Homo sapiens: one gene and its partner. The protein of the gene in region 1 binds, or shares a complex with, the protein of each later gene. Each region holds a gene or a part of one and is shown on either strand. Other genes may lie near its edges.

Region 1 (7,268 bases):
GCAAAAGAAATTCAGTCACACCTAATGATTAACAGAATGTAGTGGTGTATTATCTAAACAGAAATCGTGCTGATGTGCCATAATAAATTGTCTATTAGTAAAAAAATACACTTTAGGGCACAGCATTGTATCACAAATTACAGTAGGGATACTTTGCAAGAATTTAATCAAACTAGAGAATTCTGAGTAACTGTATCTTTTAAATGCAGCACTTAAAAATGTAACAACTCTGTGCATCCTTTTTCTTAAAAAAAATGACCTTGCATGTGTCATAGAAACGCTGCTTTATTGCTGCAGAGGTCAAAGTTCAAGGCTCAAGAGGTACAGGAGAGAATACAAAGGTAGCCTTTAGAAACGTGGTCTTGTTTATGTATAAAAAAGGTAAAGTTTATAAAAGTTAATTTACAAACCAAGAACAAAAGTGGTATGCACGCATTATGTACAAGCATCCTTAAAACATCAAAATTTTCAAATGCATAGCCAGAAAGAACAGAAAACCACCACTGCCCCTTGTCAAAAAAAAAAAAAAAGAAAAGAAAAGAAAAGAAAAAAATATCCCCAAATCACACCACTATTTTCTTCTGGGTGATAACACATTTCTGAAACCACCAAATGCACAACGTACTCAGTCTTTGTCATGATACAGTATCTAGATAATGCACAAAAGCCATAAAAACTTAGTAACACAAGGAGAATGAGCTAAGAATTAAGAACATGAGGGTAAGGCATTTCTGCTGGTTAGTATGTCTGTGGTAATATGGTGAAGTTAGAGATCTGAAGAGGCCATGGAACCAGTCTCACATGCTTTTGTATCCTTCCCTAAGAAAAATGTGTTTTCATGTACAGTAAGTCATTGTCTTCACTTCACCCTCCCCCAGTTGTAAATCTCCTTGCTGTACATTTCTGTTAAATCCACAACACTGGTTATATATTCCAGGTGCATTTAAAAAATGTGTGCATATTACTTCATGCATAATAAAATAAAATGTGTACGTATGCTAGGCCAGGGCCATAGTAAAGTTTGAAACAGTGTACTTTGGAAAGAACAGACCTCAAATGCACCCCCATTTACTGGCTGGTATTTTAACGGAAATCAATATGTGAAGTTAAGCAGTGACGATAAAAAAATTACAAAAATCACAAAGCAAAATATCTTTGAACCTCTAGCCAATACCAACAGTCCCGTCAATCACAAACATGCAGTGTGTAGCATGTTTTCCGACCATGGTTCAGGGGCATGCTCACTCATCTTTATCAGTTCAAACAAATGCCTCATACTAACAAACTGTAGTATCAACTCTAAAAAAGGTATAATACTTGATAGAGTGGTTCCATTTAGATTAAGTTTAATCCAGTTTCACATTATTTAAGTTCCTATATTTCAAGAGTTAAAAGTGGTCAATAAGGACAGAAACACAGTTTGCTCCAACGAGATAATTTGGATCTCCGGGAAGACACTTGTTTTGCCAGGTTTTAGGATCACCTATGAGAGAAAAGAAGTTGATGTCATTTACAGTTCAGTAAACTGCTATCCGTAATGCTTTGCAATTATAGGGCAAATACGTATATTTAGACATAATTTTCTTCTGTTTCTTCAGCATATTGAATTTGTATCAAAACACATTGCTGTATTTCAAAGCAGATCTGCTGGCATCTAACAATTCCAAAGGTGTTTCACACTTCTAAAAAAATTTTTTTTAAAACGTTCTTTCTAACTCACACCATTAAGAACAGTTTTTTGTTTTTTGTTTTTAATTTTCAGACTTCTCCTTTATTACATTATCAAGTGCATTGGCCTTTTCAAAAAATGAATACAAGTGAGTGATGGCAATCTTATGCCTGGGACAGTCCCAGTTTGCCAGAGCCCACATAATTATCAGTAGCACTTTTTTTTTTTTTCCAGTTTCGAAAGTCTGGAGGATAATTATGTGATCACCTATTTGAGCTGAGAATGAGGACACATTTCTCACACTCAACTATAAACCAACAAATGAAGCCCAGTTCTGCAGAATCTAGTTCTTGAAGACTGTCTTCCCCCTTACAAAAAACAAGCAAAAAAACGAGACTGCACCAGAGCTGCTCAGCTCTGATTCCAGCTGGACAACAAAATTAATCATGCAGCTTCAAAAACTCATTGACTGGGTGTTAGTTAGGTCTCAGGATTTAAGTTTTTAATAAGCTCTTGGTGATTTCTATTAGATGTGAAGGCAGGGACGACTATATGTCTCTGTGGTGTCCAAGCAAGCTGAGAGTCACAGCTGTGGACGTTTGCTTCCCTTACAGAAGTAGCTCTCAAACAGGAATGACCCTGCCCCTGATGGGACATCTGGAGACAGTTTTGCTTGTTACCACTGGCATCTAGGGGTAGAGGCCCAGGGAAGCTGCTAAATATTCCACGACGAACAGGAGGGCCCTACAACAATCATTTGGCCAAAATGTCAACAGTGCCAGCTGAGAACTTTGCTTACAGTACGTTAGACATTACCTAAGCAATATCTGGAGCCAAAAGCATTTCATTTTTCCAGAAAATGGGGTACTTGTAAATATGAGGAAATATGTATTTACATGTAATTTTTTCCTCTGATAACATTAAAATATGCTCTTGCTATAATCTTTAGACCACAAACTTTTATTTCATACTGTACCAAACTAAAACTAAATAATGCTCATCTGATTTATCAAAGATTTGGAAGCTAGACTTTAAATCAGGTTCGCTTAAAGTGATCTACACCCAAAATAAAATTCTAATTATTAACTGACTTAAGTCACTCAAGGAAGTGAGAAATGTGAAAATGCAGTGGAAGCTTTGAAATTATCTCAGGAGAAAAAGTCATTTACAAATAGTGTATAAAAGAAGTAATTTAGAGTATTACACTGAAAAACCATGGCCAAGTATGATCACAACGGAAGATCTTGTTAAGTTTCTCTGGTATACATACGTTGTAGATTAAGAAATTAAACAGGCCAGGCACGGTGGCTCACACCTGTAATCCCAGCACTCTGGGAGGCCGAGGCGGGTGGATCACTTTAAGTCAGGAGTTCGAACCAGCCTGGCCAACATGGTGAAACCCCGTCTCTACTAAAAGTACAAAAATTAGCCAGGCATGGTGGTGGGCACCTGTAATCGAGGCTGAGGCAGGAGAATCGCTTGAAGCTGGGAGGCGAAGGTTGCAGTGAGCTGAGATCGTGCCACCGCATTCCAGCCTGGGCGACAGAGCGAGACTCCACCTCAAAAAACCAAATCAAAACAAACAAACAAAAAATAAATTAAACAATAGTAACCAAAAATAGAAATAGTTATATAAAGGAACAAAGTCATTTTAATAAGGTAAAAATGCCTATTTGTGCAGGACAATATCTCCCACTGCATCCTGAAAAATTTGACAGAATAAATCATTTTTCTGAACACCAAGAAATAGTCAATATTTGGCCATATTATCAAAAAAAAATTTTTTTGAGACGGTCTCGCTCTGTTGCCCAGGCTGGAGTGCAGTGGCACGATCTTGGCTCACTGCAATCTCCGCCTCCCTGGCTCAAGCAATTCTCCTGCCTCAGCCTCCCGAGTAGCTGGGATTACAGGTGTGTGCCACCACGCCTGGCTAATTTTTGTATTTTTAGTAGAGATGGGGTTTCACCATGTTGGTCAGGCTGGTCTTGAACTCCTGACCTCAGGTAATCCACTTGCCTCAGCCTCCCAAAGTGCTGCGATTACAGGCATGAGCCACGGCGCCCGGCCCAAATTATCAATTTTTAAAAGGCAGAAAGTCTTCTACCTTTCCATATTTATTTACAATATATGCACCACAAATAAATGTGAAAACACTGGTGATGCCTACAAGGCCACAGGAACAGAGATAGAGATTTGCTAACACACAGCATGGGCAGCATCATCAGCCCAGGTATTAATCAACGACAGTCCCCAAAGCTCCCAAAGGACAGAGTGAAGACAGCATACCCGACGAGGAGTCGGATGATTTTAGAGCAAAAGACCAACCGTCAGGAGTCATGGACGCACAGTGTGGTAAGCGCAGCTCCACAGGCTTCAGGAACTTGAGGCCATGGGGACCACACATCACCAAAGGACTCAGCAGTGTTTCACCTGGAGTTGGAAAAGGGGATAGGCAGAGAGGATGGATGTGGTCTTTCTTCTAGAATCCCAGTTTTCCTCACCCTGCTTCTAATTATATGCTTGAAAGCCTAATGGAGTTAGTTCTCTACAGTCGCACTGACCACAAAAAAACGTAACAGCAGCCACATATGGAATCTTAAATTTCCCAGTAGCCACGTTAGAAAGTAAAAAGAAACAAGTGATATCAAATCTTACAATATTTTAATATTTTAACTCAATATAACGAAAACACTGTTATTTCAACATGTAATCAATATATGAAATCTTTGGAACTTGGTGTGTATTTCACATTTCCAGCATCTTTCAATCCCAAATTGTCACACTTCAAGTGCTAGCTAGCCACGTGCAGGCAGTGGCTACTGCATTCAATCATATGGGTCTATAATAAAAAACATATTCAAATGTGCTTGTTGCGAATGTGATATATTTTCCATTTTCAAAATGTTTTGTTTGCTCCATAGGTGGTTAAAGAGATTCATGCAGGGCCAACACAGTCAGTCCTACTGGTTTTTAAAACAGGATATCCCCAAAATCAGAGTACAGAATCAGATGTCAGTATTCCGGCAAAATACAAAAAAGCGAACTAAATTTGTTTAGGAAGTAAAAGCACTGCTAAAAGATGCTAAATCACAACACACTTCGTTATAATATCCTGGTAGATCCAGGAGGATTATGAAAATAAGTTTCCTTAAGAAGCTCAGAAACATGCTGTCATCTCCTCTGAGACTCCTTCATGCACTCTGCTGAGCATGTACTAGTGCTAGGTTCTGGGGTGATGAATAAGACAGTACCTGTCAAGAGGTTTAGGTTCTCCAATCAGGTGAAGGCACAGCAAAGCCTTTCTGAGTGGGTGTTACCTAACCCATCTCCAGAGACGCAAAGGCTGACTGATTCAAAGACAAATTTGGTTAGGTCAGCCTAGGCTGCTCAGCAGGTGAGACATCCCGTGGCCTGTCCTATGCCATCATTTTTTATTTCACACCAAAAGTAAAAGCAGGCAGTGTGGTCACCACAGCCTTGCTTCAGGCCACCCACTGCTTGCTTGCAACACCGTCCCCAGGGCACCCCTCGCTACAGCACTCATCTGGAGATAGAGAGGTGCTGCATTATTAGCCAAGCACTATAAGCTCTGAAGTGCACACAGGGCAACTCTTAAGTTATCAAAACTAAGGAGAAAAATAAACACATTTACCTTTCTCTTTATCTAAAGGTGGAAGGATGCTGTTGTCCCGGCAGACCTTGAAATAGATTTCCTGCTCAACTCCTTCGGGAATGGCTCCTTGAGGGATAATTATACTAACACCAGTTTCTATGGAACTCAGCACGCCCCCATTGCTGTTAAATATGCCTCGGGCTGTGGCCACCACAGTATGACCATCTTCATCTTCATCCTCTTCCACAGCTGAAGGACTGAAAGTTCAGAAATGGCTAGTGAGTGAATTCCTAATAATACACAGGTGCTTTGCTTTTACTACTACTGTATTACGTGCTTTCACTTTTATTTCTCCATATAATCAAGAAGTTACTTTAACAAGATAAGTTTCTGGCAACAGATTTTACTGACAGGGTTATCGCAGAGAATATTATTTCTTTTTTGTTTGTTTGTTTGGTTTTGAGACAGAGTCTCACTCTGTCGCCCAGGCTGGAGTGCAGTGGCACAATCTTGGTTCACTGCAACCTCCATCTCCCAGGTTCAAGTGATTTTTCTGCCTCAGCCTCCCATGTAGCTGGGACTACAGGCGCACGCCACCAAGCCTGGCTAATTTTTGTATTTTTAGTAGAGATGGGGTTTCACCATATTGGCCGGGCTGGTCTCAAACTCCTGATCTCGTCGTGATCCACCTGCCTTGGTCTCCCAAAGTGCTGAGGTTACAGGCGTGAGCCACCGCGCCTGGCGAGAATATTATTTCTAGAGAAATTCCATTCTAGAAAATTTCAAAAATTCTAGAGAAATGTCAAAAATTCAATTTTTGAAGGCAATTAGTCAAACGACCTTCATTAATGAATTGCAACCTGAAAGTGTAAAATCTGATGCCTTGAACACCCAACTACAGGTGAAGCATCCCTAACCTGAAAATCTGAAATGCTCCAAAATCGGAAACTTTTTTTTGAGTGTCAAAATGAAGCTCAAAGGAAATGCTCATTGGAGCATTTTGGCAATATTCCAAAATCCAAAAAAACCCAAGATATGAGACACTTCAGAACCCAAGAAGTTTGGACAAGGGATACTAAACAGGTACAGAGTTTTATGAAGCACATTTTAAAATCCATGAAATTGGAACTTTAAAACTGGTAAGTCACAATTTAATTGGTAGCCCTGTTCTTCCCTTCCTGTTGTTTTTTGAAATGGAGTGTCTTGCTGTCACCCAGGCTAGAGTACAGCGGTGCAATCTTGGCTCACTGCAACCTCCACCTCCCAGGTTCAAGCAATTTTCCTGCCTCAGCTTCTGAGTAGCTAGGATTACAGGCGTCTGCCACCATGCCCGGCTAATTTTTGTATTTTTAGTAGACATGGGTTTTCACCGTGTTGGCCAGGATGGAACTCCTGACTTCCAGTGATCCGCCCGCCTCAACCTCCGAAAGTGCTGGGATTAGAGGCATGAGCCACCGTGCCTGGCTGTTCTTCCATTTTTAGTGACACAAAACAATGGTGCATCTCACGGCTGACAGCATCTCAGACTTGATAAAATCTCCCTAGGATTTTAAGTGTGCCTGAGTATGGTCCTGCCTCAGCATTCCCTGAGGACCAAGCGCCCGCTCTGGCTGTAGGAGGCAAGGCTTCCAAGGTTCCATGAGGCGAAGACCCTTGTATGGGCATATCCCAAACATCCACGAAAGAGAGACAGTAGATTAACTTAGTAATCACAGAACGCCAAAGGCAAAGGGGATGTGGTATCAATGACTGCTTCAAAAGTAGAGGCTATCAACTTCCTGAAAGTACAGTTTTGAGCCAGGGCTCAAAGGTGAGCAGAAAGACCAACGAAACAGAATTACATGAAGGTAGCTGCCGTTTCACTCCAGCATGACCGGAGTGCCAGGGACGACATCCTACGACACAACATCAAGGGAGCAGAGCGCAGCCTGAGCTGCAGAGCAGAGGCCAGCTCTGTCCGCCCCTGACCATCTGTGGATGTGCAGA
Region 2 (8,185 bases), on another chromosome or scaffold:
TGAGACAAGATAGCACCGTTGCAGTGAGACAAGATAGCACCATTGCACTCCAGCCTGGGCAATAAGAGCTAAACTCCGTCTCAAAAACAAACAAACAAAAAAAAAAAATTCCTGCTTTTTCTTTGCCTAAATTTTTATCAAATATTTTGAACAGAAGCCACATGTATTTCTACACTACAAGAAAAGCATAAGTTCAGAAATAAGTAATCATACCCCCTAGTCAAACTTAACTATAGGAAGGAAGGACAGGACAGGACAGGAAAGGAGGAGAAAAAAGAAATTAGCTGGGTATACTCAGGAGGCTGAGGCAGGAGGATGGCTTGAGCCCAGGAATTTGAGGCTGCAGTGTACTATGACAGCCTGGGCATCATAGCAATGTCTTTGAAAAAAAAAAGGATGGCCGGGCACGGTGGCTCACGCCTGTAATCCCAGCACTCTGGGAGGCCGAGGCGGGAGGATCACAAGGTCAGGAGATCGGGACCATCATGGCTAACATGGTGAAACCCCATCTCTGCTAAAACTACAAAAAAAAATTAGCCAGGCGTGGTGGCGGGTACCTGTAGTCCCAGCCACTGCACTCTAGCCTGGGCGACAGAGCAAGACTCCATCTCAAAAAAAAAAGGAAAAGGAAAAAGAAAAAAGAACACACCTCACCAATTTTGAAATGTGAACATACAACAAATAAAGCAATATTTTTTGGAACTCATCACTTTGCATTGAATTAGGCATGGAACAAACACTAAGCATTTGTTAAGAGAACGATGCTCTGGATTTAAATTATATATCCTGTATTCTAAGATCCTCATTACTCAATTGATAGGCAAGCCTGGACCTGGGGGGAAGTGGACTAATCAGAAACACAACCCTGCATTCCTTCCCTTTGGCTGACTTATACAAATATAAGAATAAAATTTAATTGACAAAGGATAACAGCATTTATAAGTAAGATTGTTATGCTGGAGATATGTTAATTAAGTCCTCTGGATTAAAGGCTAAAACTCAATTTTACCTGCATGAATTGATTACAGAGAAAATTACCAGGTCCTTTGCTCCTTTTTAAGAGAACTGTGGTAGAACTTTTTAAGAGAACTGTTTCTGGTAGAAAACAATTCTTAAGTCACACAACCTCAAAAGTTAAAAGTGCTGGCTTTTGAAGAGGTTGTTTGAAATGCTTTGGAAAAATGCACAACAGTTTAAGTAGTAAATAATATTAAGCCATTACAAATCAGGACAAATATTAACAGACCTTCCATACAACTTCTATGTATCTCTTCAATATGCCCTTTGCCTACAGCACTCTGGGCACAAAAATCTGGGGAAAACTAAGATCTGTTTATTGGAGCTTTTTACCTTCTACCCAGAAAAGTTAGTTCGTGTTTAATTCTGACATTACACAGTACTTAAGACATTCAAAGCAACTGCAGTGATACAACTCTATGCTAAGTTTTTTTTAAATCAGTAAACTTAACCCACAACTCACAATATTTTAATCAGGAGCTCTGGAAGTAAGGGTATTTTTCTGTTTTTTTCCATACCCTCTGAGGTTGAAATTTTTTTGCTCTTTTACTCTGAATAATACCTAAACCCTCTCTAGGGAGAGAAATATTTTATTCCTAAATGACATTATTAACGCATTTTTCTACAGATATTAAAGTACTGGAGATATGCTGTTTCCTGCTTATCAGGAAATTAAAATCCCTTTCATTTATGTAGTTTGATTTTTTATAGCGCTTTCACATATATTCACTTGAACGTATACACGACACAAACATATAACAAATTTAGACTTATCAGGCATACAAGATGACCCTCAGCCTGAACTTATTCAAACTTAACTTACTCGATTTCACATCGTCTTGATGCTAACAAAATTAAGCATGAGCATAATGAAATCGGTATCACTGCCAGTTCTCAATGAACAAAAAGAAAACCAAATTCGCCCATTTCGCAAAGGAAAAGTACTCCCAATCAGACAATCGCAAAAAAAAGAACAAAATCTAAACCATACATTCACGTACATCTTTTCAACTCAGAGCTCCAAACGCAGCCGCCAACCACACAACTGCCCACAATCACAGCGGTAGCGCCTACTCTTAATTTTGAAGCTAGAGACTTAAGGAAACACACACACACACAAAACAGTTCTCAAGTTTGACAAAGTGGGGGAAAAGTCATTTTAAGTAAAGACAACGAGTTAATCAGGAGGCGATGAGCCCAGTCCTTCCGCCCCGCTTTCCCGCTTCCAGCCCTCGAACGAACCCTCCTCTAACCCCCGGGAGGCAGGAGTTCCAGCGGGGAGATGCGGGAAGCCTCAGACGAGCCCGCACGCCGCCGGAGACGCAGGGATCGAGGTCGGGGAGACAAAGAGCAGCCCGCGAAGAGCCCGGGCGGCGAGGGGCGGCCCGGCTCCGCCCTGCGCCCCTAACCGCCCGGGTAGTTGTCGGCACCGCCGGGGCGCCGCCGAGTGCGCGCCGCTTCTGTCCGGGCTCCCCGACCGTCGCCCGACACCTCCGCGGCCCAGGACACCCCCGAGCCGTTTCCCTCCCGATTTGGGAGCCGCGCGCCTGGGGACAAAGAGGGAGGGTGCGCCGGGGACAGTGGCAGGACGCGGGCCGGCGACGCCCCTCCGGACTCGGCGGGAACCCCTCGGCGGCGCCCCCCTCCTTCTCCCGCTCTGGCCGCGCTCCTCCCCGGACCTCCGGAGGTTCTCCTCGGCCCCTCCCCGGGCTCCCCAAGAGTTCTCCCGCCTCCCCCTGGGACCCCGCCCCTGGCCCGCTTCTCCTCAGCCGGCCCTGCGGCCGCCCCTCACCCGGCGGCGGGTTCCCCCGGAGCCGCCTCCTCCGCCGGGCCTCGGCCCGTCCCGCCGGTCGCGGCCTCATGTGCCCCGCGTCGCCATCGCCTTCACCCTCGCCTCTCCTCCACCTCCTCCGCCGCTGCCGCCTTCGCCTCAGTCTCCAGCCGAGGCAGAAGCCGCTCCCGCCGCTGCCGCCGCCGCCGCCGCCTCCCGCTCCCGCCGCCGCGACCCGCGGGAAGGCGCCTGCGCACTGCGCGCTGCGGTGGGGGCGGGGGCGTCCCGCCGCGGCCCGGGAGCGGGGGGCGCGCGGCACGTGGCGCTCGAGTGGGAGGGGGGCGCCCCAGAACGCGCGGGAAGCGACGCGAGCGCCAACTTTCCGCGGTCGAGTCCTCGCCGCTCTCTCGGATAGTCCGGGACGCGGCGGAGGCGCGGCGCGCGTGGGAGTCACCCGCGTGGAGTCTGGACCCCGGGTGGGCGCAGACTTCGCTCCGGACAGTTCATTCTTCCAAGCTGATTTTCGGGCGAGAGTCCCCCGCCAGCCGCGCCTCAGTTTGAGCGGGCCGCTAACGGCGCCGTGGGTTCTCGCCTTACCTGGGTATCCTGGGTTGGTTTAGCGGGCCCAGAGTTGTCTTCTGCGCGCTCCGCCGAGGCCTTGGTCCATTGTAGCACGGGATGCTAATGTCTCCTCCCAGGTTCTGCTCTACAATTCCTCGAGGATCTGGCGGGCCCTGCGTGGATCTAGCTAGAGTCGGGGCTCTTAGCAGTGCTCTAGATACTTTTCAGGTCCTGAACTTCTCGGATTAGCAAGACCCTAATAGGCTATTTCCTCTTAACTCTTTGCATCCCAGCAGGATCCCATTCAGAGGACTTGGGAAAAATTTTCATGCATAGGAATCCCCAGTTTTAAAATGCCCAGTAGGAAACCGAAAATTCTCCAAATGCTTTAAGTAGAGTAAGACTTTGGGTAATAAAGGAAGGCTCAGTAAAGAGATGGGCGACCTCTGGAATGATCTCATCTGAGCATCAGAATGCCGATGGACAGGCTTTTATTATTTTGCCCTTTTGACCAGAGGGGAAATTAAGCGCTAACAAGTGAGGTTACTTGCTGCAAGTCAAACTCCCCCACCCAAAGCCAAGCCCTAAGGGGTAGCCCCAGAGTGGAAATCTTGAAGGCTAGGCATCTAATGCACTGACCAGTTTTGTGTGGCCAGTATGTTTTCCAAAAATATGAATTAGTTACCAAAATATTAAAATCCAGATTTCTGGCCTCCCTAAAAAGTCAAAAGCTGCTTACTTTGAGCTTCTCTTTTCACATGGCAGCTCCTCTTGAGTCACCTTGTCCGGGTAGGCAATGTCCCCACTCAGCTGCTTAAATCATTTCATGACCTGCTTGGCCTCGGAGCATTTAAGTACTTCTCCCTGTGATTGCTGTAGTCTGTCCCCACGCCTTATCACATTGCCTCTCTACAGATGTATTTAAAATGACAAGTGTGGGATGGGCGCGGTGGCTCACGCCTGTAATTCCAGCACTTTGGGAGGCCTAGGCAGGCGGATTGCTTGAGCCCTGGGGTTCCAGACCAGCCTGGACAATATGGCAAAACCCCCATCTCTACAAAAAATACAAAAATTAGCCGGGTGTGGTGACGCGCACCTGTGATCCTAGCTACTCCAAGCATGAGGTGGGAGGATCGCTTGAGCCCGGGAGGTCAAGGCTGCAGTAAGCTGAGATAGCGCCACTGCACTCCAGCCTGAGCGACAGAGTGAGACCCTGTCTCAAAAAAATAAGTGAAAAAAATAAAATGACCAGGGTGAAAACTCTGAAAATACCTGGAAATAATAAATAGCATGTAACTAAAATAACACAGGAAACAACATCATTGTACCTGTTGAATAAAATATTAAAATTCTCACAGCCTGCAACTGTAAACTAGTACAAATAACTTTTTTGTTTTGTTTTGTTTTGAGGGAGAGTCTCACTCTGTCGCCAGGCTGGAGTGCAGTGGGCGCCATCTAGGCTCACTGCAAGCTCCACCTCCCCGGTTCAAGCAATTCTCCTGCCTCAGCCTCCCGAGTAGCTGGGACTACAGGCGCACGCAACCACGCCCAACTAATTTTTGTATTTTTAGTAGAGACAGGGTTTCACCATGTTGGCCAGGATGGTCTCGATCTCCTGACCTTGTGATCCGCCTGCCTCGGCCTCCCAAAGTGCTGGGATTACAGGCATGAGCCACCGTGCCTGGCCTAAATCACTTTGTTGTTGTTTTTGCAACAGAGTCTCACTCTGTCGCCCACGCTGGAGTGCAGTGGGGTGATCTCGGCTCACTGCGATGTCCGCCTCCCAGGTTCAAAAGATTCTACTACCTCAGCCTCCGGAGTAGCTGGGAATACAGGTGCCCGCCATCATGCCTGGCTAATTTTTGTATTTTTAGTAGAAAGGGGGTTTCACCATGTTGGCCAGGCTGGTCTCAAATCCTGACCTCAAGTGATCTGCCCGCCTTGGCCTCCCAAAGAGCTGGGATTACAGACATGAGCCACCGTGCCCAGCGGACTTTGCAAAACTGGCAATATCTACTGTTGAGGCTCAGAAAATGATTTCCCAGGGCGTGGTGGCTGTAGTCCCAGCTACTCAGGAAACTGCAGTGGGCTATGATTATGCCACTACACTCCAGCCTGGAAGACAGAGCGAGACCCCATCTCTTTAAAAAAGAAAGAAAGAAAACAATATCCCAAAGTATGGAGCTTTGGCGTGCTGAGTGCTTTGAACTAAAGGAGATTGGAAGGCCTCAGAAGCAAAGTCTCTCTCTGACCTTCTCCTGCCCTCCTGTCTCCCGCCCCTTTCTCCCCTGAAGCGAGTCATAGAAATAAAAATTCCTCTTCCCCAAGGCGGGTCATAGAAACTAGAACCCCTCTCCCCCAAAGCAAGCCATAAAACCAGAAAGGTCACTCTCCCCCTTCTCTCCTCCCCCTTGAAGACCCTCATTCCAGAGGAACCAGGAAGGAATACCCTGGAGGAAGGAATGTTACACTGGGAAGCCAAGAAGAATTTGAACCGACAAGCCTTGTTGGGTTCCCCGCTCAGTCTGTTAAATTAGATCATACCCCTTTTGTCTGATCACATTCTGCTTGTCCATTCTGCATTGAACCTAAGCATAAAAACAATTGTTCTAGGGTATTGAGGGTGTGTGTGTGTGTGTGTGTGTGTGTGTGTGAGAGAGAGAGAGAGAGAGACCGGGTCTCTCTCCATCACCCAGGCTGGAGTGCAGTGGCATGATCTCGGCTCACTGCAACCTCCGCCTCCCAGGTTCAACTGATTCTCATGCCTCAGCCTCCCAAGCAGCTGGGACTACAGGCGCACACCACCACGCCCGGCTAATTTTTTTTGTATTTTTAGTAGAGACTGGTTTTCACTATGTTGGTGAGGCTGGTCTTGAACTCCTGACCTCGTGATCCACCCGCCTAGGCCTCCCAAAGTGCTGGGATTACAGGTGTGAGCCACCGCACTCGGCCCTTTGAGGTCTTAATTTCCGAAGTCTCTTGTGTTACATAAAACTTTGGTTAAATAACTTGGTTATGCCCTTCTCTTGTTAATCTGGGTTTTGTTATAGGAGTGTCAGCTGTGATCCTTATGATGGATGAGGAAAGGTGTCACACCTTTCCGCCACTACACTACTAAAGCTGAACCTATGAATACACTATGCCTTTGGAATTCCATGGCAATTCCACGAAAATGTGTACAAATGTTCACCAAAATACTTGTACTAGAGTATTCATAGCAGCACTATTTATAATAAGTCAAAAAACTAGAAACTACCCAAAATGCCTGTCAACCGTAGAATGGCTAAATTGTGTTACGTACATTATGCTGCAATGAAAATGAACAATCTACATTTACACATAAGATGGATCTCACAAAAGTTTTCATTTACAAAAACTTCAAAAACAGACAAAACTGGCCAGGTGCTGTGGCTCATGCCTGTTATCCCAGCGCTTAGGGAGGCCAAGGTGGGCGGATCACTTGAGCTCAGTAGTTCAAGACCAGCCTTAGCAACATGGCAAAACCTTACCTCTACAAAAAATACAAAAATTAGCCAGGCATGGTTGCATGTGCCTGGAGTCTCAGCTACTCCAGAGGCTGAGGTGGTGAGGTGGGAAGATCACTTGAGCTGGGGAAGTTGAGGCTGCAGTGAGCTGTGATTGTGCCACTGAACCACTGCACCACTGCACTCCAGCCTGGGTTACAGAGCAAGACCGCGTTTAAAAAAAAACAAAACAACAACAACAAAAAAAAAAAACAAGCAAAACTAATCCATGCCGTTAGAAGTAGGGACAGTTGGCCAGGCGCGGTGGCTCACGCCTGTAATCCCAGCACTCTGGGAGGCCGAGGGGAGCAGATCACCTAAGGTCAGGAGTTCAAGACCAGCCTGGCTAACATGGTGAAAACCCATTTCTACTAAAAATACAAAAAATTAGATGGGTGTGGTGGCGCATGCCTGTAATCCCAGCTACTCAGGAGGCTGAGGCAGGAGAATTGCTTGAACCTGGGAGGCAGAGGTTGCAGTGAGCTGAGATCATGCCATTGCACTGCAGCTTGGGGCAACAAGAGCAAAACTCAAAAAAAAAAAAAAAAGAAGTAGTAAGGTGCAGTGGCTCACGCCTGTAATCCCAGCACTAAACCCCGTCTCTACTAAAAATACAAAAATTAGCTGGGCGTGGTGGCGCATGCCTGTAATCCCAGCTACTCCGGAGGCTGAGACGAGAATTGCTTGAACCAGGGAGTTGGAGGTTACAGTGAGTGGAGATTGTGCCACTGCACTCCAGCCTGGGTATAGAGCAAGGCTCCGTCTCAAAAAAAGAAGAAGTAAGGCCAGTGGGCTGGGCACAGTGGCTCACGCCTATGATCCCAGCACTTTGGGAGGGTGAGGCAGGTGGATCACCTGAGGTCAGAAGTTTGAGACCAGCCTGGCTAACATGGTGAAACCCCATTTCTACTAAAAATACAAAAAATTAGCTGGGCGTGGTGGTGTGAGCCTGTAATCCCTGCTACTTGGGAGGCTGAGTTGGAGGTTGCAGTGAGCCGAGATTGCGCCACTGCACTCCAGCCTGGGGACAGAGCAAGACTTGGTCTCAAAAAAAAAATTAGAAGGATAGTGGGCTGGGCACAGTGCCTCACACCTGTAATCCCAGCATTTTGGGAGGATGAGGCAGGTGGATCACCTGAGGTCAGGAGTTCGAGACCAGCCTGACCAATATGGTGAAACTCTGTCTCTACTAAAAATACAAAAATTAGCTGGGTGTGGTGGCATGCGTCTGTGAGAACTGCTTGAACCCAGGAGGCAGAGGTTGCAGTGAGCCAAGCTCCCGCCACTGTACTCCAGCCTGGGTGACAGAGTA

Evidence for each region.
Region 2: the proteins of TJP1 (region 1) and GJC1 are in contact, whole or in part, in a crystal structure (PDB 3SHW), measured with the Homo sapiens proteins. Residues at the interface, in NP_003248.3 of Homo sapiens: Lys429, Ser432, Val433, Gly434, Leu435, Arg436, Leu437, Gly449, Val450, Leu451, Val484, Leu487, Leu488, Leu549, Asn551, Gly552, Lys553; in NP_001073852.1 of Homo sapiens: Lys391, Thr392, Ser393, Val394, Trp395, Ile396.

What each region holds. Positions count from the first base shown.
Region 1 is NC_000015.10:29,700,207-29,707,474, forward strand, and holds part of TJP1 (tight junction protein 1), read right to left. Parts: intron 5,540-7,268; coding exon 5,322-5,539; intron 4,100-5,321; coding exon 3,956-4,099; intron 1,484-3,955; coding exon 1,389-1,483; 3' UTR 1-1,388. UniProt on the Homo sapiens protein: TJP1, TJP2, and TJP3 are closely related scaffolding proteins that link tight junction (TJ) transmembrane proteins such as claudins, junctional adhesion molecules, and occludin to the actin cytoskeleton.
Region 2 is NC_000017.11:44,827,253-44,835,437, forward strand, and holds the start of GJC1 (gap junction gamma-1 protein), read right to left. Parts: upstream 3,036-8,185; 5' UTR 2,810-3,035; intron 2,573-2,809; exon of another isoform or gene 2,260-2,572; intron 1-2,259. UniProt on the Homo sapiens protein: One gap junction consists of a cluster of closely packed pairs of transmembrane channels, the connexons, through which materials of low MW diffuse from one cell to a neighboring cell.